4 linked regions of the Homo sapiens genome follow. The protein of the gene in region 4 interacts with the protein of the main gene of each other region in a pairwise test. Each region holds a gene or a part of one and is shown on either strand. Other genes may lie near its edges.

What was found.
Region 1: the proteins of ZNF441 (region 4) and SPRY1 interact in binary tests that used the Homo sapiens proteins (3 or more experiments, as listed by UniProt).
Region 2: the proteins of ZNF441 (region 4) and PCSK6 interact in binary tests that used the Homo sapiens proteins (3 or more experiments, as listed by UniProt).
Region 3: the proteins of ZNF441 (region 4) and TEX48 interact in binary tests that used the Homo sapiens proteins (3 or more experiments, as listed by UniProt).

What each region holds. Positions count from the first base shown.
Region 1 is NC_000004.12:123,399,767-123,404,262, reverse strand, and holds the end of SPRY1 (protein sprouty homolog 1), read right to left. Parts: exon of another isoform or gene 4,469-4,496; intron 2,727-4,468; 5' UTR 2,672-2,726; coding exon 1,712-2,671; 3' UTR 508-1,711; downstream 1-507. UniProt on the Homo sapiens protein: Inhibits fibroblast growth factor (FGF)-induced retinal lens fiber differentiation, probably by inhibiting FGF-mediated phosphorylation of ERK1/2. Inhibits TGFB-induced epithelial-to-mesenchymal transition in lens epithelial cells.
Region 2 is NC_000015.10:101,388,692-101,395,726, reverse strand, and holds part of PCSK6 (proprotein convertase subtilisin/kexin type 6 isoform PACE4-AI preproprotein), read left to right. Parts: intron 1-2,302; coding exon 2,303-2,515; intron 2,516-6,162; coding exon 6,163-6,263; intron 6,264-7,035. UniProt on the Homo sapiens protein: Serine endoprotease that processes various proproteins by cleavage at paired basic amino acids, recognizing the RXXX[KR]R consensus motif.
Region 3 is NC_000009.12:114,679,175-114,686,118, reverse strand, and holds the start of TEX48 (testis-expressed protein 48), read left to right. Parts: upstream 1-3,926; 5' UTR 3,927-4,084; intron 4,085-4,253; exon of another isoform or gene 4,254-4,960; intron 4,961-6,944.
Region 4 is NC_000019.10:11,762,936-11,770,013, forward strand, and holds the start of ZNF441 (zinc finger protein 441), read left to right. Parts: upstream 1-4,064; 5' UTR 4,065-4,258; coding exon 4,259-4,261; intron 4,262-7,078. UniProt on the Homo sapiens protein: May be involved in transcriptional regulation.

The sequences.
Region 1 (4,496 bases), on a different chromosome or scaffold from region 4:
ACTCCTAGCATATCTACAGAACTAAGTTCATTAAGTCTAGCTGATAAATCTAACTTTTTATTAACTTAAAAGTTAGGATAAACATTTAAAAAAGCTTCTACTGTAGATATGCCCCATTTCAAGAAACTATAATATACACAAAACCTCATGCTTACAAAATAGTCAAAGTAGGGAGAGAGTATTACAAAAAATTTTTACTGTACAAAATAACTCACTTGAGCATTTGTTAAAAGATAATTTGGATTACAAAATTTTGATTAATGCACTTTCCAGGAAATACTAGGTTGGTGCAAAAGTAACTGTGTTTTTGCCATTAAAAATGACCCAAAACTGCAATTACTTTTGCACCAACCTAATTATCCAGTTCATAATTTGGGCTCACCTATGTCTAGATTCAACATCTATAGGGAAAGAAGTAAAATGGGTGTGTAAGAAGAAAAAGTCAAAGCAAATAAGCAAAAATCATCATAATAGTACAGGCTAATAAATGAAGAAATCGAGAGACAGTTTCATTAATTAATATATTTTCTGCATTATAGTTAACATATGTACTTTCTTCGTGTCACCTTATTTTCCGTTAAGTATTGATATTTTGTTATATTCAAACATGAGTACATTTCAACAGTCTTTTGCAATAAATACCATAAAATAATAGAGATTCGCATAATAAATATTCTTTACAATAAAAAAGTTTAACAGACTTTTGTCTTAAAAATAGTCAGAATTCAACTTTGTGATTTATACATAAAATATACAAAAAGCACCACAATTTGTGGTTAAGGCAAGGAAAACACAGAAGAGATTAGAATTACTCAGCTGTTAACTATCCAAGGGGCCAAAAGGACCATTAAGGAGCCAAGATCACTTTAGGCAGCATAGTTCTGTGACACATATAGATTGATCAGCTATAAATATCAACTTGAGTTATCCAAGTGCCCTCAATGACAACAAAAATTTGGTGAGAAGCATGGGGTGAAGAAGGAAGGTGGCTGAGTCCTTCACAAATACGAAGGCTAGAGTGAAGATGGGCAAGGTCCAACCAATATTATCTCCAATGTGAAGATTTACATTGTAAGGCGAATCTAAAATTACATAGAAAGAAAAAATACACTTGGCATCTCCAGAGTAAGACAACAACAAAACTGAGGGGGAAAGAACCTTGAAGGAGAAAGAAGGAGAGGGCAGTGGTTAAAGGAAAATTTTTACGTTATAGCAAAAAATATATCCCCCATGCTACTTAAGGGGCCTATGCTAGGAAGATAGCCCTAACTGGAGACAGATTTAATACATAGCTTATTTAAGCAATTAAACAGTTGCTTTTTAAAAAACCAATTTCCCTGCTCCCACGGTACCCAATCAAAACAACTCTAAATCACTGTAGTCTGGATGTGGGTGTATGTTCATGTACACAACTTTAGAAAGTTGCTTGCAGAACAAAAAGGCTACACAAAAGCCCACTGGCTCTCAATACCCTCAAGTGGATGGCAGAGGCTCTTGTTGAAAGTGGGAGCCAGGTGCAGCTTCCCAGTCCACTCTTGCTGAAGATCATCCATGAGGAAAGAGAAAAATCCATGAGTTAGACCTTGGCAACAGGGGAAGAGAAGGTGGGAAACAGGGAAAAATTCTAAAGAAAACAAAAACAAAAACAAAAACAAAAAACAGCCACAACTTGAAAGCTAAAAGTTCAGGAGGTACAACCCACCTCCAAAAATCATGATGGTTTACCCTGACCCCGGGAGGGGCAGCTCTCCAGCTTACAATAGACAGTGTTGGAGTTCTTACATCTGCACCCTGGGCGATGGATCCAGTCATAACACCTCCTGCACAGCTTCAGGCATCCTTTAGCAGGAGGATAACAGAGTAAGCAAGGTAAAAATAAAGACATGGCTCCCATACACAGGTATCTAGAGCAGCAGTGTGATTGTGAACAGGAGCAAGGATTATCTGAATAGGAATCCCCTTCGTCGTCATTGGAGCAGTGGTAGAAGATGCCCTTGACTAAGCACATGCAGGTTCCATATTCCACCATGCTCTCAGCAGAGCAAAGGCACTGCCGGTTACAGGCCAAACAGGATGGTAGGGTCCTGGGAGCAGTGCATTCTCCACACTTGCACTTCCCACACTGTTCACAAATGAACTTGTGCTGTGTCAGGTCCTCTTTCAAGGAACCCTTCAAGTCATCCACAATCAGTTGCTTGGGCTGGGTCCGGATTGCCCTTTCAGACCTATGACCAGGGACTGGTCTGGTTGGTGGTGACCTTCCTAACAGTCCCTGTTCAGAAGAGGCACTGCTGTTGCTCCCAGAGCTGGCTGCACTTCCAGTGCTGGTTGATCTGCTCAAAATGGGGCCCCTGGCATTACTTGGGAGTACTGCATGTCCCAGGTGGCTTGTGTGTCTGTGCTCGTAGTTATTATTCACATTAATTGGTATGATTTCATGAGTCCTTTCATGCTTTTCTTGTCTTGGTGCTGTCCGAGGAGCAGGTCTTTTCACCACCGAAGGCCCTTCTGTGTATTCATTGCTGCCTCTTATGGCCTTGATCTGGTCTAAGGACAAAATAGCAGTAGGCTGAATCTCTCTCTCATAGTCTAATCTCTGACGGCTATCCAAAGAAGGCTGCTGGATCACAACTAACGAACTGCCACTGCCATGTTGATTTTGGGGATCCATGTGTAGTGATCTCGAGTTCTGGCAATCAGTGGAAACCTGGCATGCATCTGAAATCCTAAAACGAAATCAAAGATGAAAAAAACAGAAAATAAATGACAGGAAGCATTTTTTTTGGGGGGGGGGAATCCTGTCAAATCACAAATTGCCTAAACCGCCTAGTAATGACCTCCTTCATCAGTGGATTACAATGATGCTGGGGTCCTGGCCAGAGTCCAATTCTAGGAGAGGCTGGGGACCACATCATAGAGGAAGACTATAAACAAGAGACCCCATGCCATGAACATTATAAGTTTTTCCAACTTTTAAGAAGCAGAATCAGGAGAAAGTAATGCCTTCCTGTTTGTGAATCTAATAATTAAAATGGAGCATGCCTTCGCAGGGAATACTGAGTATAAGCAGGAGAATAACTCTCATCTAAAGAAAGCTCAGTTATCAGTTCATAGGTGGCTTCCATAAAGGAAAATGTCTACCTTTTAAGAAATTGAGAATGGCTTTGGTGCTACAGCCTTTTTGTTGTGTGCTGTTATATGCATTAGATTAATGATGAAAAAAATTAAGGCATTAAAAAATTGAGACTCTTAAAATGAAATCGCAAAATAATAGGTAATTTTCTATATAAATCAGAATTTTAAAACTACCTTATTATTCATCTATGAGATGCAAAAATAAATGTATCAGGTACACAACGATTCTTGGTGTTTTGGAGCTACAAACACACACACACACAAGACTCAATGTATAGTCCAGTGAATGATATATAACAGTACTCATATTTGAAATCCTGAGAGGATTTTTTTTAAGCTGAAGGGCTCACTCACAAAACAAAGTAAGTTTTATGCACAAATAAGTGTGAGGCCTTTAACGCAGTGTAGGGAAATCCTGGCAGTTTTAATTATCTGTATTTCCTCTGATTTAAAAATCTGTATTTACATGACAGACCTTGATTTTCAAACGCACTGCCAATTCTGATTCAACGTTCTTCTTGTAACAAAATCAGCACACTAATATCCAGATAAAAATAAGCAGTTGTGTTTCCATACTAATAGTAAGTTATTTCTAATTTATGTGTTCTTCACAAACTGCCAAAGATGAAAGTTTCTGCTTTCAGTGGTGAACTAGAGTATTTTTCACACAAATTCCTTCTAAAGTCTACAGAGTCGACCCAATTCAAGAATGAAAAGAAAAAGAAATGTCCATTCTCCACTACCAACCTGAGGCAAAAAACATGGTTTAAGGAACAACGCAGAAAGAAGTCCATTTCCTATATTTCCTAAACTAATGTCTCTAAACTATGTCTTACATGTTAACTTCTTGGAGCTCCCCCTCGTTTTCACAACTCAGCTCTCTCGAGTTTCTACTTTATTCTACCTTCTTTGCGCATGAGGAGTAACACATTCATAACCTGCGGGGATTTAGTCTCGGAGTCCTCAACATCTAATCCTGACTCCTGCACAATTATTCCTCTTCTTCAAGAACTTCTTAACTCAGTGCTTTCAAAGCAAAAGGTAGCTAAAAGTACTAAGCCAGATTCACAAAACCGCAGAGGATTTGAATAGTGTAACCCATAACACCAGGCACAACTTCAATTTGCATTTCCAATGATAGTTGTAACAAACTTCATACTGGCTGGGAAATAAAGTTGCCAGACAAAAAAATTAAAAGCAAAGAAAATTCGCCACCTCCGATCCGAAGAAAAGCCCATTTTCAAGCAGTGACAGTCTTGGACAAGCCCCAAACACGCTCACACGCGCTCGGCACACTGCCTTCCCCAAGAAAACGCGAATGGAAGTAGAATACCTTTTCGGACAATCCCATCACCATATTA
Region 2 (7,035 bases), on a different chromosome or scaffold from region 4:
GATTTGATTGGGTTGAAGTTGTGAGTTTACTGAAAAGAAGTGCAAGTTCATGGCTAGGGTTGAAATGTCCCCTACAGCTTCTGTCCCATGGCTTCCATGAAGCCACTGGAAGATCTGGGAAGTGAAAATAAAGTCGTCAGAGACAGTTAAAACATCTCTACACTCCTCAGACCTGGCTGTTTCCTCGCCTCATTTCCATGTCTCCTTCCCAGAAACCGTTTTAAGGAGGGGAAAGGTTGTTGGTACCTTGATGCCTATGAGGATGGGTTGGTCTCATAGTAAATGCATGCTACATGCTGTAAATGCAAACCTTGAGCATTTCAGGCTCTTGGTATTCAAAGTGGGGTCCAGAGCCAGCAGCACTGGCGTCCCCTGGGAGCTCATTAGGGATGCACACTCTCAGGCCCACCCTGGACTTTGGGGCACAAGTCTGCATTGTAACAGGTTCCCAGGTGACTCCAGGGTGTGCACATTCAAGTTTGGGGAGCACTGTTTTTGGCCATTCTCTGCTCCTGGAGCAGTAAGGTTGCATGCTCCACCTTGCAAAAGGACAACATTTTATAAGTCATTTCAAGTGGGGTGGGGAGTTAGGAGTGGCAGTGTCTAGGACTAATTCTCACCTGGAATAAGGACAGGCTCTGATGGGTTAAATACCTTTTGATTTGCATTGTAGTTGCTTTAAACCGGCTTCAGCTGAATCTCTTCCTGCAGGTAATCACGTGCACACACACACCACCTTCCTGAGCTCTTTGTGCCTTTCTCTCAGAAGGTTAGCTTTTCTGGGAGGGACCTTTCTGTTGAGCTCTTGGCCACCCCGACAGGTTCACCTTGCAGATGCAGAAAGCAGAGTGGACGCGGCAGCCTTAAGCAGCGGGGCTGCGTGAGCTCCAAGAACTTTCCTGTGGGCTTTCTTGGGAGCCTCAAGTTGGAGCTGGAGTCTCCTTGGTTTACAAACCCCCGTGGTGTGAGCGTACAGAGCAGGCGGGTCCACTCATTGTGCTCCAAAAGTGAGTGTGACATGTTTGGTCAGCAGCAGGCTTCAATTTGGCTCTACGGGGATTGCAGAATTGGTGTGTAAGTTATCTTTAAATTGGCCGATTGTTGAGCATAAGTATAAATTTCCTCTGTTTGTTTGGGAAGGACGGTCCTTAGTAAGGATGTGATGGCCAGCCAGTGGCTCCAGTTTCCCGTGGAGGTGGATGCTGGCCCTTCTCTCGGGCCAGCTGTGCACCACCAGCCCATCCAGCCATCTGGACTATATCCGTCAGTTCAGTCTTCCACTCGCTAATCTTTAGCTGGTACTTGTGGCTGGAATGATTCTCAGTGTGGTCAGAAATCATCCATCCTGTGGGTATGGGATAGAGCGGAGCTGCAGGAATCTGCCCTGACTGGCTGCTGTCTTTCAAAGACTTGCTTTCATGTGTACGTTCTTAACAATGAACACCGGTGCACAGCTGGGCATGGCGGCACACTTCTATAGGCACAGCTACTCTGAAGGCTAAGGCAGGAGGATCACCTGAGCCCGGGAGTTCCAGACCAGCCTGGGTAACGTAGCAAGACCCCTGTCTCAAAAAAAAAAAAACAAAAAACAAAAAAACGGAAAGAAAACCTACACACAAATGAGGCCCTGGCCTTGGCTAGTGATATAAATCAGACCACCCTGATACTTACCCACTGCAGAGACCACAGGGAGCTCTGACAGGACACCCACAAGCTGCTACCAGCTTCCTGGACGTAACCCTTTCCACCTATTCTGTCTTCACGCAGAGTTCATGGTCCTATCCCTCTTTGCAAATTTAGCTCTCTCTGCAAGAAGGGTACCTCTTCAAGTATGTTTTCCAGAAAAATCATTCTTTTCCCCACCAGACCAGCTCTTTCAACCCAGAAAAATTAAAGTTGTAAATTCTTCCATCATCTGTAATCTCAGTGTCATTTGCAGCACTGCTAGCTCTCTTTGATCCTAGGCCATTGCGATGGAAATGACAGGCATGGCTCTGGAATAGAGCAGCTTGTGTTGGGACCCTTGATTTTCCTGTGAAGAACAGAGGAGTCTTTCTGGCCCCTTCCCCTCGTATGATCCTGTGATTCTGCAATTTTAAGGCTGCTGCTACAGGCAAAGGCACACCATTAAAATCCAAACAGAGCCCCCAAAACCATGCTCTCAGCAGCATCCAGATGGTCTGAATGCAACCTTCTTATCCCTTTGAAGGAACATTTGGGAGATGGGACTCTAGGTTCGGGGGGAGACCCACCCTACGAGGTTCTGCTGCGGGGCTAAGCCTTGTTCCTCTTGTCCCTCCAGGGCCGGCAGGGCCTGGGCTCCATTTTCGTCTGGGCATCTGGGAATGGCGGGAGAGAGGGGGACTACTGCTCGTGCGATGGCTACACCAACAGCATCTACACCATCTCCGTCAGCAGCGCCACCGAGAATGGCTACAAGCCCTGGTACCTGGAAGAGTGTGCCTCCACCCTGGCCACCACCTACAGCAGTGGGGCCTTTTATGAGCGAAAAATCGTAAGTTCTCTTGGCAAGTTGGAGTGCTTACAGTGAGTGCCTCAGCCCTCTGGGAATGAGTTTCTTCTCCCTTTCTCAGAAAGATGGCTTAGATTGAGGCCAGATTGTTCCGGATCCCAGGGTCCCAGCCTCACCCATCGGCGAACAATTTGAGCCTGGAGGTAAACCCCAGTCCCTTGGCAGCCTTCCTCGGACACTGGCTTTCTAATCTTTGCACAGAAATAGCAGTTAAACCCCTCTCTGGCTTTAGAGATCTAAAAATATTATTTAAGAACGAGGTTCCTTCTCATGATGTCTTGTTTTAACTCTGAAATTCTGTGGTCACATGTCTTGGAATCCAATGAACCCATCCAGTTCCAGCGTGTACAACAGAGTAAGAGAAAGACTTGGTTTTATACTGAGACATTCTAGAAATCCAGGAGTTCTTCTAGGCATTCTGTTGCTACAGAAGCACTTTTTCTGGACACTTTAAGTCGAGCAGTGGTTTCTGTCTGTTCCGCTTACTTAAGTGAACATAAGCATGATTTGTCTTTTAAAAGGTAACTGTTTTAGTACTCAGGTAGAATTTGTGCTTTTTCCTTCCCTACATACTTTCCTACTTAAAAAAAAAAAAAAAAAGAGGAAGGGAGGGTTTCCAGTTCAAATTAATGCAGAATTGAAGTGCAAAGTCATTACGTTGACTTGTAGACATTTTAAAAATGAGACTGTGGAGCTGGCCAGACATGGTTAAATTTTAAAGCTCACTAGCATCTTTTCATTTCTGCGGCTGCTCAGCCACATCTTTCGAAGTTATTTGCAAATTTATTTTTACACTTTTCTGTGGGAGCATACAGGCTTCCTGTTCTCGGCTTTGCTCCGCACCAGTGAAAGGTCAGCTGCCATCGTTCTGTCGCCAGCCTGGTAGCAGCTCGGCCTGGTTAACTAAGGTATTAATTTGTTATTTTCCTTTTCTGCTGGAGTACGCACCCCTGGGACGGGCAGCTGAGATGCTGAATGGTGTCCTGTTTATGTAGAAATCCAGCTCATTTGAGCACGGACCTGCTAGGGTCTTATTAGACAGACAGTTGGCCAAAACCCAACATAGTCTTGCTGGCCGAATGGATGCAGGTTCGAATTTGCTAAGTTATGGGACAGTTTATAACATGGACTGCGTGCAGGCAGGATGGTGTCTCTCAACCCTGGAAGTAGGACTTGCAGCTTTATTTGCATTACGAATCACGTCAGCGTGTGATCTGTATGCCATGCATGTGTGCGTGCCTTGGCTATAAAATGCTTTTTCTTTCTTATTTTAAAATTCTCTTCCCTGAGCAATAATATGTGGGTAAGAAGGGTATAGTTTGGAGAACGGTAAAAGAGAAAATATACTTTGTCTTGGTCACTGCCCGGGAAGTCTGCTCTGACAGGAGGGGTGTTATTTTCAGCTCTACTAGAGTCCAGCTTTTGTTCTGAGTCCTCTTAGACGTCCTCCAGGGAGACGAGTGCTGCTCAGGATAGTCGACATATCACAGTCCCAGCATTCAGGCAGGCCTGTGATGGCGATCACAACCCTGTCCGCCTGCATTCTCTGTCCCTCTGAGTCTGAGGAATGTGAGCAGGTGTGTCCACCTGGAGCGAGGGATGTCCTGTGGTGACACATGACTCTTTATAGAGGAGTAAAACCTAAAGAAAGCATCTCTCACCAGAACAAGAGGGTATGTTCGTTCACTGAACACGAGCTGTGTCCCAGGCGTGGCACTAGGACTCAGGAGGGGCTGTCCACCTTGATTCAGCCATCCCTCCCAGGGTAGGCCCCTCTGCTCGCTCCCCAGGACCCCCTTCTCTGAAGCTGGAGAACCAGCTGTGAGCCTCACATGCTCTTGGGAGCGTGGCCTCCTGCCCAGCCACCCCTAGTTTCTCCTCCTGGCCACCATTTACCAAGCCCAAGTACATTCAGGTGCCTGGCTGTGATCTGCCGAGAACCCCTGAAATCTATATCATGGTGTCCATTTGCATATGAAGATGCTGGAGTCAGAGAGGGAGCATTTTTGTCCCTTTTCCCATGCCCTCAGCTGCCCTCCCCATGTTGAGGTACCCCAGCCCCACTGAAACGAACAAGGAGGAAACTGGTCTCTGTTGGCCTTCCCGTCACATCTTCCTGTGTGTGACACAGACCAGACCCCCACCTTCCCTAGACAGTTGGCCCAGCTCAAACGTGTGCAAGGAAGGTGCTGAGTTCGGAAGAGGATCTGGATTGCTCTCACTGTGAAATTGATTCTCAAAGGTTAGGCAAATCGGCTACTGGAGTCCTGTGGTGGGTGGGTGGGTGTGACTTTCCTATTCCTGCCATAACAAATTATCACAAACTTAGCAGCTTAAAACAGCACAAATTGATATCTCATGGTCCTGTAGGCCAGAAGTCCAGGAGCCTCAGCCGAGTCTCTGCTTTGAGTCTCACGAGGCCAAGACCAAGGTGCTGGCAGGGCCGTGGTTCCTTCCGGAGGCTCCCGGGAGAATCTGTTTCCTTGCCCACTCGGGCTGTTGGCAAAACTCAGGTCCCTGTGGTTCTGGGACTGAGTTTCCCATTTCCTTGTGGGCTGTCAGCTGGGGCCCGTTCTCAGCCTTTGGAGGCCACCCACATTCATTGGCTTACTCCTCAGCTCCCTCTTCAATGCCAGCAGCGGTGGGTCCAGTCCTTCTAATGCTTCCTCTCTCAAACAGCCTTGCTGCCTTCCTCTTCCAAGGTGGAGGGCCCTGTGGTGGCAGCAGGTCTACTCAGATAATCCAGGATAATCTTCCTGGTTTAAGGTCGGCTGGCTACCAACCTTAACTCTATCTGCAAAGCTCATTGGAATAACACCAGGGGACAAAGATGATGGGGCGACAATCCCACCTAGCACACCTGAACCCACACAGGCTGAACCCCCAGCACCCACTTCCCGTTTGAGTCCAACGGGAGATACACGTCAGCCTGAGTGGTAGTGAGGTCCAGAATCCATCCCACACCCAGCCTGGGCCAGTGCCTCCGAGGAGGGCAGGCAGAGCCCCCAGCTAGCGGTACCTGCCTTGTTGCCCTGTGCAGTAGGCCTTGGGCGGTCAAGAACATGCCAGGTTGATCTGCTTCTTCAGGAGGACGTCCTGGTGGAGAACCCAGCTTATGACCTACTGGCTAAAGGCAGAAACTCTCTCTGAGCCACCTGGGTATCTCTAGCTGCTCTGAAGTCAGGGGGTGACTTAGGGGTAGCTAGTGTGGACTCTGATGGTTTTGCCGTGGGTACTCTCGGCTGTTGGTGACAGGCCACAAAGTCCGGCAGACCCAGGGATGAGGGCTTGTGGGGTGCGTCTTGGTTTCATGTTGTTTTACCATTTTTTCCACATGCGCTTCTGCAGTAGAGAGGGAACCAGCTGATCTATTATTATCAAAGCGTACGGTCTGTGCTCCCAGCTGGCCTTCTTGCCCCTGCCTGTCTTCCTACAAAGTGATTTAGCAGGGAGCACCAGATGTTGTGGAAACCTGTGGTTGCCGAGATGCATTTGCCTAACACCTTATTTGTTCCCGAGACCCAGGGTCACGCTTGCCAGTTAGTGGCACCTGAAGTAGCCCAGCCTTCTCCACAGAGTGAGTTAGCCTGTCTGCCATCACTGCCTCACTGTGCTTCTCTCTCCCCCAGGTCACCACGGATCTGCGTCAGCGCTGTACCGATGGCCACACTGGGACCTCAGTCTCTGCCCCCATGGTGGCGGGCATCATCGCCTTGGCTCTAGAAGCAAAGTAAGTTCCCACTTACCTTTTTCTAAAAAAAAAAAATGTTTAGATTGTGGTAAAATACACATGACATTGGCCATTTTCACCCTATTGAAGTGGACAGCTCAGCGGCATTAAGCACATTCAGTGAGTCGTGCACCTGCACCACCATCCCTCTCCCAGAGCTTCGTCTTCTTCCCAGGCTGGAACCCTCTGCCCGTTAAACAGCAGCTGCCCAGGTTAGTCAGCTCAGGCTGCCGTAACAGAGTCCCACGGACTGGGCAGCTCAAACAACAGAAATTTAGTTTCTCAAAGTTCTGGAGCCTGGAATTCCTGGATCAAGGTGTCAGCAGGGTTGGTGTCTTCTTGGCTTGCAGAAAGCTGACTTCTCCCCTTCTGCTGTGTCCTCTTTTTATAAGGACACTGGTCATATTGGATTAGGGCCCACCCTAATAATCTCATTTTATGTTAATTACCTTTTTAAAGGCCTTATCTCCAAATATAATCATATTCTGAGGTACTGGGGCCTAAGACTTCGATGAATACATTTTGGAGGGGACATAGTTCAGCCTATAACACTCCCCATTGACCCCCCGCCCTAGCCTCTGGCAACCACCATTCTACTTTCTGTCTCTATGAATTTCATTGCTTTAGGTGCCTCATGTAAGTGGAATCACACAGGATTTGTCCTTTTGTGCCTGGCTTATTTCACTTCACATAACGTCTTTAAGGTTCACCCGTTTGTAGAACGTATCAAAATTTCCTTCCTTTTTTTAGGCCATCCTGATGGGCGTGAAGT
Region 3 (6,944 bases), on a different chromosome or scaffold from region 4:
CGTGATTGTGGTGGTAGTTACACGAAGCTACACATGTAATAAAATTTCATGCAGCTATACACATACACACACAAATGAGTACTTGAATAACGACTGAACTTTGAATAAGCTCTGTAGATTGGGCCAATGTTAATTTCCGATTTTGATCTTGTAATATAGTAAGGCAAGATGTTAACATTGGAGGAGGCTGGGGGATGGGTTCATGGGAACTGTCTGCAGAGAGAAAGTTACAAAGTTACCTCTTTGTTTCTCTCTAAAGAGAGAAAGCTACAAAGTTACCTCTGTAACTCTCTGTGCATTTGTAATTATTTCAAAATAAAGTTTTGGGCCAGACACAGTGGCTCAGCCTATAATCCCACCACTTTGGGAAGCAGAGGTGGGAAGATTGCTTTAGCACAGGAGTTTGAGACTAGCCTAGGCAACATGGCAAGACCCCCTCTCCACAAAATTTAAAAATTAGCCTGGCGTGGTGGTGTGTGCCTGTGGTTCCAGCTACTCGGGAGGCTGAGGTGGGAGGATGGCTTGAGCCCAAGAGGTCAAGACTGCAGTGAGCCGAGTTCATGTCACTGCACTCTAGCCTGGGCAACAGATCGAGACTTTATTTAAAAACAAGGCTGGGCGCGGTGGCTCACGCCTGTAATCCCAGCACTTTAGGAGGCCGAGGCGGGCGGATCGCGAGGTCAGGAGTTCGCGACCATCCTGGCTAACACGGTGAAACCCCGTCTTTACTAAAAAAAATACAAAAAAAAAAAAAGAAAGAAAGAAATTAGCTGGGCGTGATGGCGGGCGCCTGTAGTCCCAGCCACTCGGGAGGCTGAGGCAGGAGAACAGCGTTAACCCAGGAGGCAGAGCTTGCAGTGAGCGGAGATAGAGTCACTGCACTCCAGCCTGGGCGACTGAGCGGGAATCTGTCTCAAATAAATAAATAAATAATAAAAATAAAAATAAACAAAATAAAACTTTTGAAAACCTAAATTGAATTCCCTGATTTCACATCCACAGGTGTGAAAGCTAATCCTTCACTCTCAACACCAGATAATAATAAGGAAAATTTATTGAGTGCTGCCTCTCTAGCAGGCACTACATTTACAGCTTTCCATGGCTGGTCTAATTTACTCCTCACACCAACTCTATTATTATTTCTATTTTAAAGTTAAGGAAACTGAGAATTAGAGGGGTTAATGGCTATGGCCCAGGTCATGCATTAAGTTAGGAAGGCAAGCGTCCCACCCAGGTACTCGGACCCCAGAACTTACCCACTGTGAAATCACCAGAGTAAAAATCCACCCATTTGTCTTAGCCCAGTGCATCAGGTCAAGATTTCATTATTCCCTACCTGAACCAGAAATTAATACAGAAGCCTGTTGGCCCATCTCCCCTCCCAGACCCAAAGAGAAGAAAGTAATCACACCATACATGCTTGAATGGTAAACCACCCCAAACAGAAGGCAGTTTCTTTATGCAAAGATTTTAAGTATTTTCTCCAATTTGAATATATACACATTTAGTGCTATGGGTGAAATAATCAAGCATCAACTTATAAGTAGTCAGTACCTGATATGTGTTTGCCAGAGCATATTATATAAAATACATTAATTTGGAAATACCTGTGTTGCTATCCATATTAGTCTGTTTTTACACTGCTATAAAGAAATACCCACGACCAGGTAATTTATAAAGAAAAGAGGTTTAATTGACTCACAGTTCTGCATGACTTGGGAGGCCTCAGGAAACTTACAATCATGGCAGAAGGGGAAGCAGTCGCATCTTACATGGCAGCAGGTGAAAGAGAAGAGAGCGGGAGCAACTGCCACGTATAAAACCATCAGATCTCGTGAGAACTCACTCACTATCAGGAGAACAGAATGGGGGAAACCACCCCCATGAGTCAATGACCTCCCACAAGGTCCCTCCCCCGACGTGAGGATTACAATTTTGATTACAAATCCAGAGGAGATTTGGGTAGGGACACAGCCAAACTATATCACTATCCTCAATCTTTCATTTTCTGAAACAATTTCATTCAAATGCTTCATACACATCTTTAACCTCATCTAGCACAGGTTTTCAGAATATATTATCTTCATTTCTAAGTTATTTTTTAAATAATGCTTTTGAATCTGTATATAAATAATGCTGTTCCTGAAAAGCTCATCCCAAGCTAAAAAGGATCCATTTGTATCACATCAATGAAATTTATGATTAAAAAAAAACCTCTATAAATCAGTAGTTCTTAATGCTGGCTGCGAATTAAAATCAACTGGGGAGCTGTAAAATCTATCGACACCTGGGCCCTTGCCCCCAAAATAGTGATTTTACTGACTGGGAGCAGGTGCTAGGAGTGGCATTTTCTAAAGCTCCTCCCATGATTCTAATATACAGCCTGATCTGAGAACCACCGCTTACCTGTATATAATGACCTGCACAATGGAATTCAGCAGTTCTTGATTATACTCAAGAATCACCTGGAAATTTTTGTAAACATACTGCTACCCAGTTTCCACACCCTACCAAAATTATAATTTATCTGGGGTTAGGCCCCAGGTATTCTTTGTTTTAAAAACACTTCAAGTGAATCTCACTTGCAGCCAAAATGGAGAACCTTCAATTACCATTTAAGAGTGTGGCTTTAATCATTCTGAGCAAACTATCGCAGGGACAGAAAACCAAACACCGCATGTTCTCACTCATAGGTGAGAATTGAACAATGAGAACACTTGGACACAGGGCGGGCAACATCGGACACAGGGCGGGGAACATCACACACCGGGGCCTGTCGTGGGGTGGGGGGAAGAGGGGAGGGATAGCATTAGGAGATATAACAAATGTAAATGATGAGTTAATGGGTGCAGCACACCTACATGGCACATATATACGTATGTAACAAACCCGCACATTGTGCACATGTACCCTAGAACTTAAAGTATAATTTAAAAAAAAAAAGAATGTGGCTTTACCTGTGAGCTTTCAAAGGCTGTTTAACTCACCATCAAATATTTATTAAAGGAATTCAGCACAGCTGTGGAGTCACATCACCCGCCCCAACCACATGAATGACCCCACAGCTGTGCTGAATTCCTTTGCTTTCTTCTGTTTCTATTGTATCCAGTGACCTCTCTGTGCATCAAATGATAGCACTGATTGAGAACATGTTAATCCAATGTGGCTTCCCCATATATGAATAGTACTTGGTTGTCCTAAATAAAGGAATGGAAAGAGTGCCCCATAAGCTGAGAGATTTTGTCAGGACTCCAATACAAAGTGATTCCTTCTTTTCTGAAAAATAAATAGGGAAGAAAATGTCACTTCATTTTTGCATATGTTATTAATAACTACCCTTTCTTAAAGTGCTTACTACATCTAGATACCATGTTAAATGTTTACCTGATTTCATTTAATACTTAAAAATGCAAACAGGACATATAATTATTATTATTCCTGGCCAGGCGAAGGCCACACCTATAATCCCAGCACTTTGGGAGGTCAAGGTGGTGGGGTGGGGGGGGGGGGGTCACTTGAAGTCAGGAGTTCGAGACCAGCATGGCCAACATGGTGAAACCCTGTCTCTACTAAAAATACAAAAATTAGCCGGACGTGATGGTGCATGCCTGTAGCCCCAGCTATTTGGGAGGCTGAGGCATGAGAATCGCTTGAACCTGGGAAGCGGAGGCTGCAGTGAGCCAAGATTGCACCACTGTGCTCCAGCCTGGGTGACAGAGTGAGATTCTGTCTCAAAAAAGAAAAAAAAATTATTATTATTCCCATATTGCAGAGGGAGAACCTGAGCGTGAAGTCACTTTGCCTAAGGTTACTACCCAGTGGGCGGACAGAGACAGAATGGCACCCAGATCTACAGCATCCAGTGTTGTACTGCCCCCTTCTGGCCATCCTCTAGGTGCTTCCTGAGGCCCCAGGACTTGTGCCCCAGTATACAGTCTGGTGGCCAGCATGGCATCGTGCTCAGCAGAACTTCTCCCTCCTCCTCGCTGTTGTGGTCCAGTCCAAACATCCCAGCCCCAACATTCCCTGGTTCCCCAGCTCTGTGACATCACAGACAGCCTTCTGTCTACTCTGCCAGCTGCAGGTGAGTGGGGCTCACAGTTTAAACCAAAGGGCGGGAGGTGATAATTTTTCTGTACTAAAAGGCACAATGTCCCCACCACTCCTGGACACCTATTCATTTTGCTCCAAGAAGCAATCCCCATCCTTCATTTGCTCTAACCTCACTGTTTCTCTCTCTCTCTGGGTCCCAGTCTCCACCTGTGCTGAATGACCTCCCCCACCCCCGCCCGCAGCGCCAGAAGCCTTCCTGTTTGACCTCATTCATCTTTCTTCTGATCAAAGTGCAATGGGGTCACTAGAGACCTGAAGTTCATACCCACTGGGGACAACCCAAGGGCCCTCTTCTTTGGTTTCTGCTTCCCTCTAGAGGGGGTCACTGGTAGTGCAAGAAGTGCCACACATCCCCTAGGCATCTCCCTACATATTCATCAGCATCAGAACCTTCATCTGTATTTATTAAGCCTTTACGACACACCAGAAAGCTGTGCTAAGCACTTTCCATCATTATTTAATCCTCAGAACTACCTTCTATTGTAGATACTATTATTCTCATCCCCATTTTACAGGTCAGAAAACAGAGATTCAAAGAGGTCATAAATTCTAAATTTCCTAGCTAACAGTAGATCTCCAAGAATTATACCCCCAGAGAATGTGCTTGTAACTGATACACTGCTCTCCCTAAGAGCCTTTTCATTTCTTGAAGAGGGTTCAAAAACTCAAAGCTCTCTGCTGTCAACACTTAGAGGAGAAAGTGGTTCTACTACCCTCTTTCTTGCAAAATTTTCTAGTAAAGATGTGGAGAGAGCATCAGCACGGGGTGTCAACAAACCTGCGCTTCAGATCGCTGCTGATAATACGGACGATCTCCACGGTTTATTTTTAATTGAAAAAAATCAAGGTGCAAAACGTGGTGTATAGTAAGCTATCATTTGCATTAAAAAGAGAGAAAAAGAGAATTTGAATAACTACATTTTCTTGTATATCCATAAGCTGCTTTGGTGGAAGATGCCTGCATTCACTACATGAAACAAAAACTGAATTTATTTCTGGTTAAACAAGGGAGAACTGTGCTTGTATGGCAAAGTCTCTGAACAAAGCTCATGGCTGATGCATAAGGGGCTTTGGGAGGTGTTGAGTTCGTGGACTGGTGGTGTTTCAGAGGCAGCAGTGTTTAGGAATGGTAGACCTTTAGCTATGAAATGTACCTACTGGCATGTGTCTGTTAGAATGGTTACCAAGGGAGTTTCATTAATAGATTAAATGAGTGTCACACAGGTTCTGGGGATTCGTTGTTACCGTGGTTACAGGGCAATCCATCGTCACCTAGGAATGTGGGAGCTTCTCTTTTTAATTCTCATTATCTGCCTTCTGGTCTCCCTCAACTAAAGGTGCAGGAAAGACCCTCCAAGATTGTCCAGATCTTCACCACTGTCATTGGCTTTTCTTGAAAACACAGTTCCATTTTTCCATGTACAGAGATCTGGTTTTCATTTTGAGTATCAGTCTGCCTCATTTCTTCTCATTTTTTCTTTGAATCATTTGTTTCACCATTTGTCAAACCAGAGGCTACATAAAAGCATTCAGCTCTCTGGACAACAGAACCTGAATGATGCAAGACAATGATAATTAAGGCCAGGCACAGTGGCTCACGCCTGTAATCCCAGCACGTTGGGAGGCCAAGGCTGGCAGATCACCTGAGGTCAGGAGTTCGAGACCAGCCTGACCCAACATGGGGAAACCCCATCTCTACTAAAAACTAAAATTAGCCATGCGTGGTGGTGCATGCCTGTAATCCCAGCTACTCGGGAGGCTGAGGCAGGAGAATCGCTTGAACCCAGGAGGCGGAGGTTGCAGTGACCCGAGATCGCACCATTGCACTCCAACCCTGGCAACAAGAGCAAAACTCCATCTCAAAAAAAAAAAAAAAAAAAAAAAGGGACAATGACAATTAAAAGTATTTTCAAAAAGATCTGAAAGCCTCTCTGGAGTCATGCCCCATGATTTCCCTGGCATGACCATCTACCTTAGATAGCCAGGCTGCTTTTTCTTTGGGCTTAGCTATAGATTAACCTCACCTGTGATATTAATCCAGGCACAACGGGAGTGTTAGCAATGGTGCAGACTCCCCTAATTAGCTAAAATAAAACCCGAAGGTTTCTGTGATCCATAATTACTCAAACTAAGGATTTTAAATTGGTCAGGTGTACCCTAGGGTGTGGGCTACATGATTTGCTGTGTCAGTCAAGGTGAGGGGAAAAAAGGCACTTTAAATTGTTCAACTCAGAATCCTCAGAAGTCTGTTTCATCTACTAGTAGTTAAACCCCCAAGAAGGGTTTCATCCCTTCAGACTCTGTGTAAGAAGACATAGTCCACCGTGGGTGCTGGAGAATCATGCACTGGAATGGTCTAAGTATTCATCATGCAGAACAATTAGTCTTAATTATAGTTGGAATAGAAGAGTCTGATCTCCACATAAGAAACAAACCATATCAACAAGCAAGCAGTATAGCTGTTCATTTATATTTATAGACAATGCCCTTTGGGAGTTTAGAGGCAAAATAGGAAAATGTTAAGTGCAAAGTTCTCCTCAGAAAGACTCAGTAGACAGATATGGACAGCTGTCCTTCTGACATGGAACATTAGTTCTTCTAATGGCCTTTCTGCATACAGTAAGTGCAAGTGTTCTCCACAGACTCCAAATTCTTAAAGAACAGAGGAGATTTGGGTCCTGTCTTTATTTCAGGGGCCAGTTGTTTTATCTAGTAGGTCAAAAGATTATCTCGATTTCTAGTTAACATTTTAGGACTCTTGGAAAATGATCAAGATATCTACACTAATGGAATTTCCCATTCCAATTGATTTTTTCTAAATCCTCTATTTT
Region 4 (7,078 bases):
TTTAAAATAAAATAAAGCACCCAGTTATAGGAGGTAGTTTCCTGAGACCTGGAAGAAGAAAAAAAAAAAAAGCACCAGGGTATACTGAGGAATTAAGCCCCATGCAGTCAAACGACAGAAAAACACATTTTCACAAAAGACCCAAGACCATCGTTTTCAGATGTGGCAGATCTTGAGGCTTGGTTAAACAGAAAGAGAAGGGTGAAGCAGAGCTTTAAGCAGCTGGGCTAAGGATTCGAGGAATTCTCCAGCTCAGATCCATCCACAGAGACTGACAGAGGTCAATTTTTTGCTTGTTTCATTTTCTCTTTTTCTTTCAGTTTCTGGCATTGTCAGAACACTGGGTGAATATAAGCTAAAGGGACAGAGACCTCAGTGACTACACTGGACAGGGAATACAGTCTCTATAAATACACTTCTGAAATAAACAAGATTACCAAACAAATAAGCAATTACAGCCTTCAGCGAACATAAATCGCATAAAAAAGAAGGGGGAGAATTTGATTTACAGAGTTACTCTTATTATAATATTCAAATGTCTAGTTTTAACCTTTATTTTAGGTTCCAGGGTACATATGCAGTTTTTTTATATAGACAAACTTGTGTCATGGGAGTTTGGTGTATAGATTATTTCATCACCCAGGTACTAAGCATGATACTTGATAGTTATTTTTTCTTATCCTTTTCTTCCTCCCACCCTTAAGTATGCCTCAGCGTCTGTTGTTCCCTTCTTTGTGTTCACATGTTCCCATTATGTAACTCCCACTTATTAAGTGAGAATATGTGATATTTGGTTTTCTGTTCCTGTGTTAGTTTGTTAAGGATAATAGCCTCCATCTCCATCCATGTTTCTGCAAAGGCATGATCTTGTTCTTTTTTATGGCTGCATAGTATTTCTTGGTGTATATGTGCCAAATGTGCTTTATTCAGTCTACTGTTAACAGGCATTTAGGTTGATTTCATATATTTGCTATTGTGAGTAGTGCTGCAATGAACATAGGTGTGCATGTGTCTTTATGGTAGAATGATCCATATTCCTTTGGGTATGTGGATCCAATACCCCAGTAAATGGGTATTGGATTGCTGGGTCAAACGGTAATTCAGTTTTTAGTGCTTTGAGGAATCACCACGCTGCTTTCCATAATGGTTGAACTAACTTAAACTCCCACCAGCAGAGTATAAGCATTCCCTTTTCTCCACAACCTTCCCAGCATCTGTTATTTTTTGACTTTTTATTAATGGCCATTCTAACTGGTGTGAAATGGTATCTCATTGTGGTTTTGATGTGCATTTCTCTAATGATTAGTGATATTGGGCATTTTTTTTTTCATTTGCTTGTTGATTACATGCATGTCTTCTTTTGAAAAGTGTCTTTAATCCATCTTGAGTTGATTTTTGTATATGGTTTAAGAAAGGGGTTCAGTTTCAATCTTTTGCATATGGCTAGCCAGTTATCCCAGCACCATTGATGAGTCCTTCCCCACTGCTTGTTTTTGTCAGCTTTGTGAAAGATCAGATGGTTGAAGGTGAGCAGCATTATTTCTAGGCTCTCTATTCTGTTCCATTGGTAATGTGTCAGTTTTTGTAAAAATACCTTACTGTAGCCCTGTAGTATATAGTTTGAAGTCTGGTAGCATGATGCCTCCAGCTTTGTTCTTTTTGCTTAGGATTGCCTTGACTATTTGGGACTTTTTAAGTTATTTTTTTCCAAGAACTAAGTCTTGCATTTGCTAATCTTTTGTATGTTTTTTTTTTTTTTTGTATCTCAATTTCCTTCAGTTTAGCTCTGATTTTGGTCATTTTAGCTCTGATTTTGGTCATTTCTTGTCTTCTGCTAGCTTTGGGATTGGTTTGCTCTTGCTTCTCTAGTTCTTCTAGTTGTGATATTGGGTTATTAATTTCAGATCTTTCTTTTTGATTTGGGCAGTTAGTGCTATAAATTTCCATCTTAACACTTCTTTAGCTGTGCCCCAGAGATTCTGGTATGTTGTATCTTTCTTCTCAGTTTCCAAGAATTTCTTGATTTTGGTGTTAATTTCATTATTTACTCAGAAGTCATTCTGAACCAGGTCATTTAATTTTGATATAATTGTATGGTTTGGGGAGATTTTCTTAGTCTTGATTTCTATTTTTATTGCACTGTGGTCTGAGAGTGCAGTTGGTATGATTTTGTTTGCTTGTTTTTTTAATTTGCTGAGGGTTATTTTATGTCTGATTATGTTACTGATTTTAGAGTATGTGCCATGTGGTGAGGAGAAGAATGTATAATCTGTTGGTTTTGGGTGGAAAGTTCTGTAGATGTCATATCCATTTGGTCAGGTGTTGGTGGAAGGCTAAGGAGGAGCAAAGGCAAATGTTACATGGCGGCAGGCAAGAGAGCATGTACAGGGAAACTGCCCTTTATAAAGCCATCAGATTTCATGAGACTTATTCACTATCACGAGAACAGCATGGGAAAACCGCCTCCATGATTCAATTACCTCCCACTGGATCACTCCCATGACATGTGGGGATTATGGGAGCTGCAATTCAAAATGAGATTTGGGTGAGTAAGTCTCATGAGATCCGATGGCTTTATAAAGGGCAGTTCCCCTGCACACGCTCTCTTGCCTGCCGCCATGTAACATTTGCTTTTGCTCCTCCTTTGCCTTCCACCATGATTGTGAGGCCTCCCCAGCCATGCTGAACTGTGAGTCAATTAAACCTCTTTTTCTTCGTATCACCATGGGTGCCAGCTCCCAGTTAATAACGCTTTTTTTTTGTTTGTTTTTAAATAGAGATGGGGGTTTCACCACATTGCCCAGGCCGGTCTTGAGCTCCTGAGCTCAAGCAATCCACCCACCTCAGCCTCCCAAAGTGGTGGGATTGCAGGCATGAGCCACGGTGCCTGGCCTCATAATGCTTTTATATCTGGTATTCTTCATAAAAATATGAAGATGAATGTTTTCAAATTCAAAGTCTAATGTCTCAGCCTTTGATTGAAGCATTTAATTCAATAACATTTATAGGCTTGATGGAAGGAGCATTTCCACGCTGTGTTTAGGAGACAGGAGGGCAAATTGAACTCCCAGAGTTAAATCCATTAGTGCCCCTGACTCATCCCCAGGTTCTGATCCACCCTAGGGCTCCATTTCAGGAATTATCGTCTGGCCTCCAAGCTTTGGAATATGTTTGGCCTCCTGAAAGTGGTTGACTTGTGAACTGTGTGTGGATGCAGCAGGCTGCTTATCTGAGCTAGTTCAAGTTTTTGCTTTATAAAATATTGCCGCCATATAATTCCAGTTTTTCCACACATTTAACAATTTTATTTATTTCTTTTTTCTTTTTTCTTTTTTTTTTTTTTTGAGACGGAGTCTCCCTCTGTCTCGCCCACTCTCTCACTGCAGCCTCTGCCTTCCAGGTTCAAGTGATTCCTCTGTCTCAGCCTCCTGAGTAGCTGGGACTACAGGCGTGCGCCACCACATCCGGCTAATCTTTGTATTTTAGAGACGGGATTTCACCATGTTGGCCAGACTGGTCTCGAATTTCTGACCTCAGGTGATCCACCTGCCTCAGCCTCCCAAAGTGCTGGGATTACAGGTGTGAGCCACCACGCCCGGCTTTGTTGGGGTGTTTTTATATTCTGCACTGAAAATTAGTAGATTGAGACATAAGGTGGGAGAAAGGCTTGGCCTGTGCAGCCAACAGCCTCATCCAAAACTCCTGATTCCTGGAGGACATCAGCCCCTCCCTTCTGCTGCAGTGTGGCCTGGGCTCCCTTCCTGCTCTCAAATCAGGGGATAGCTCCACTGGACAGTGAGTCTGGAATTTCCTGCACAGACTTGTGGGTCCCTGTCCAAGAGGAAAAAGGAGGAAGGTCAGGACATACTGCCTAAATGCAAATGTCCCCTGGGAGGGGGTCAGGTCACAGCGCAGGGAGGAAGCTAGTCCTCTCAAGGCCTGTCTGGAATCTGTTTATCAGGTTCCACTCCGCTGCCCGAGATCGCTTCTTCCGTTACTCAGTGCCCGGGGGAGGGACCTGGCGCACTATCCAATCAGGGCCGCGGGGCGGGGTCGTGAGAACTGTCAATCAGGCGCACTGACCGGAGGAGGGTGCAAGGTTCAAAGAGCCCGCCGAGTCTTCTCCACGCCCCTGCACTGGGCTCCGGGTTCTGTCACTGAGAGACGCCCTGGAACGTCTGTGGCAGCTTCTGTCTCGCTGGGACCCGCACTGACAGCGGGAGGCAGAGGGAGGAACCTGGACGCCGGAAGCCGGGAAATGGTGAGTGTGTGAGGTCTGGTGTCCCGACGCGTGAGAGGAGAGACTGGTTGGAACCGGCCGGAACCGGCTGTGGTGGCACCAGGTCTTCCCCGCCGGCGACACCCTGGCGCAGCTCGGCCCTCGGTTCCCTCGGCCGCACGATGGGGCTGGGGCGGCAGCCGGGACCCCGGGCGTCCTGTCCCGTCCCTGCGCGGCCACTGCGGCCCTGGCCCTGGAGGCCTGTCTGGGCAGCTCCGCGCCCGCAGTCCTGCGTCTCCCCAGATTGTGCGGCTGTAACCGGCACAGGTTCGCGGCCCGAGTCACTGCACCGAGACGCCGAGGGCTGCAGCAGAAACAGTTTAATAGGGGGAGAGGGGAGGACACCCCAGATCCGCCTTCCTGAGAGGTTTGGGGATGGGGTGTTTAGGGGTGTGGACAGGGGCGGCTGGGGCGTGGGGTCGCTGGATGGTGGGGAAGTGAGGGGTGACTCTTGGGACTGGAGGTGAAGAAACCGCATTCTTCTGCTGAGTGGGTTCCCTTGTGGGGTCTTCAGCCTGGTTGGCGCCAGCCTTTCCGCTGGAATTCAGGATCTGAGAAAGAACTCAGGCGACTCTTGAGCAACTCTCAGAGATCTCATCCCCAAGCACAATGGCGAAGCCGGCGGTCAGCATCTGCTGTGGCCTGACTCTTGGGGAGGCGGCCCCGCGAGGCAGCGGGGCTGAGGGCACCTGGTTAATATCTAACTGCAATCTCGCCTCCAGCCTGGCTCGCAGTTCTGTGAACCCGGTGAGGAGGCTGCACGGTGATGACAGGTCACCAGGCAGACTCGTGTGTGGGGTTTGTGTGTGGGAGGAGTTGTGGTCTGTGTGGTCCCCTGTCCCTTCTTTCTTCCCAAGGGTGACCCGTTCGCCTTCGAGTCTTCCAAAGATGTGGGCAGCAGGGTCTCAAGTCCACCACTGTGTTCTCTCATCCTAACTCCTCCTAGGGCCGACAGAAAATCCCTTGGCTTCCAGAGCCTTCCTCAGGCTTTCTCTCCTCAATTCACAGCAACTTTATGAACTCCTTGTCCCCCAGTTTATTTTTCAAACAGAGGCTAGTATTTTAATTGTCATTTTGTTTATACATAGCAATATATGGCTCTTTGTAAAAGGTTTTGTGTTTGTGAACATTTCACATGAGAGGAAGCAGAGAAAAACCACCAGACATTTCGCTGTAAAAAAAATGAATATTAATAAATAAAATCTTTGTTACTGTCCTCCCTTCATCATCCCTAGACAGAGACACCTTTTGAGAATGTCTTTGGATTAAGTTTCCTCTTTGGAAACGTTACAGAGTGATGAGTCCCCAGCCCATCCTCTATGGTTTCCTGGTCCTGGGTTTCAGAGCTGCCTGGGGCCACCCCAAGATGCCCACAGCTGCCAAGTCTCTTGTAGTGTCAAGTGAATATCAGTCCCTTTGTCACTCCTCCCAGAGGACACCCTGAGGTGGAGATGGTGGGACCTTGTAGGGAAGCAGCATGATGCCCTGTAGTGGGAGGAGTCTCCTGGTATACCCTTCCTCAATAAGCTACTTCCTTAGAACACTCAGCTTTTCTTCCCCCATCCCTTCCTTGGGGATATATGGCTGGTCAGCCAATTGGATGGTGGTATTAAGGGGACAGGACTGAAATGATTCTTCCCTTCTGATGTTCTCAGACTAATGAAGGGAGAAAACTATCCCTAAGGACAGGAAAACCAACTCCACTGAGGTGGTGCAAGAACCTGAAAAGCTAACAATGTAGTGTCTCCTGGGATCATGGTTATTGAGCACTTCGGTGAGCAGCATGGTGATGGGGGATGTTCCAGGTGATAGGAGGACCTGACTTGACACACTCTGCACCCATAGGGAGGTGGTGAAAGGAGATGATGGTATAAGGGATGCATATGGATCAACCAAATTGAAGAACTGGGAGAAGATAGAGAACTAGAAACTGTGTCAAGGGTCATAAAACCCCTTTTTTGGTATGGAAAAACGAAACCACACTCAAAATGGAAGCTGAGGTAACAAACTGAGTAAAAATTAATGAAAACTGGAAAGTCTATAGTTAGTTGATCATTGTATATGGAGATGCTGGGCAGAAGATGGATTATTCTCCTGTAGGTAACCATTTGTCTCCATCATTTCTGTTGAAGTGTCCCTCATTTGTATCACTGCCTGGCAATACCTGCTGTGTCATAGGTTCTTGTACCTTAAGTAGATGCTCTTGTTCCAGAATTTGCCATTTTTCATTGGTTTATGTATCCATCAGTCTGCTAATATCATACTCTCCTGATTACTATAGTCTTCAAAGCCTTGATGTGTGGTAGAGAAAGACCCTTCCTAACTTAGTCCTTTGGGTTGCTATAACAAATTTACCATAGACTGCATGCCTTACACAACAGATATTCATTTCTCAAAGCTATAAAGGCTGAGAATTCAGTTTCAAGCAGCAGGTCAGTTGTCTACTAAAGGACTCTTTTTTTTTTTATTTTTTATTTTTGAGATGGAGTCTTGCTCTGTTGCCCAGGCTGGAGAACAGTGGCATGATCTCAGCTCACTGCAACCTCCGCCTCCTGGGTTCAAGTGATTCTCCTGCCTCAGCTTCCCAAGTAGCTGGGACTACAGGCACATGCCACCACCCCAGCTAATTTTTTGTATTTTTAGTAGAGACGGTGTTTCACCATGTTAGCCAAGATGGTCTCGATCTCCTGACCTCATGATCTGCCCACCTCGGCCTCCCAAAGTGCTGGGATTACAGGTGTGAGCCACCGTGCCCAGCCTGGGCCTCTTTCTTGATTTGCAGATGGCATTCTTCCTGTT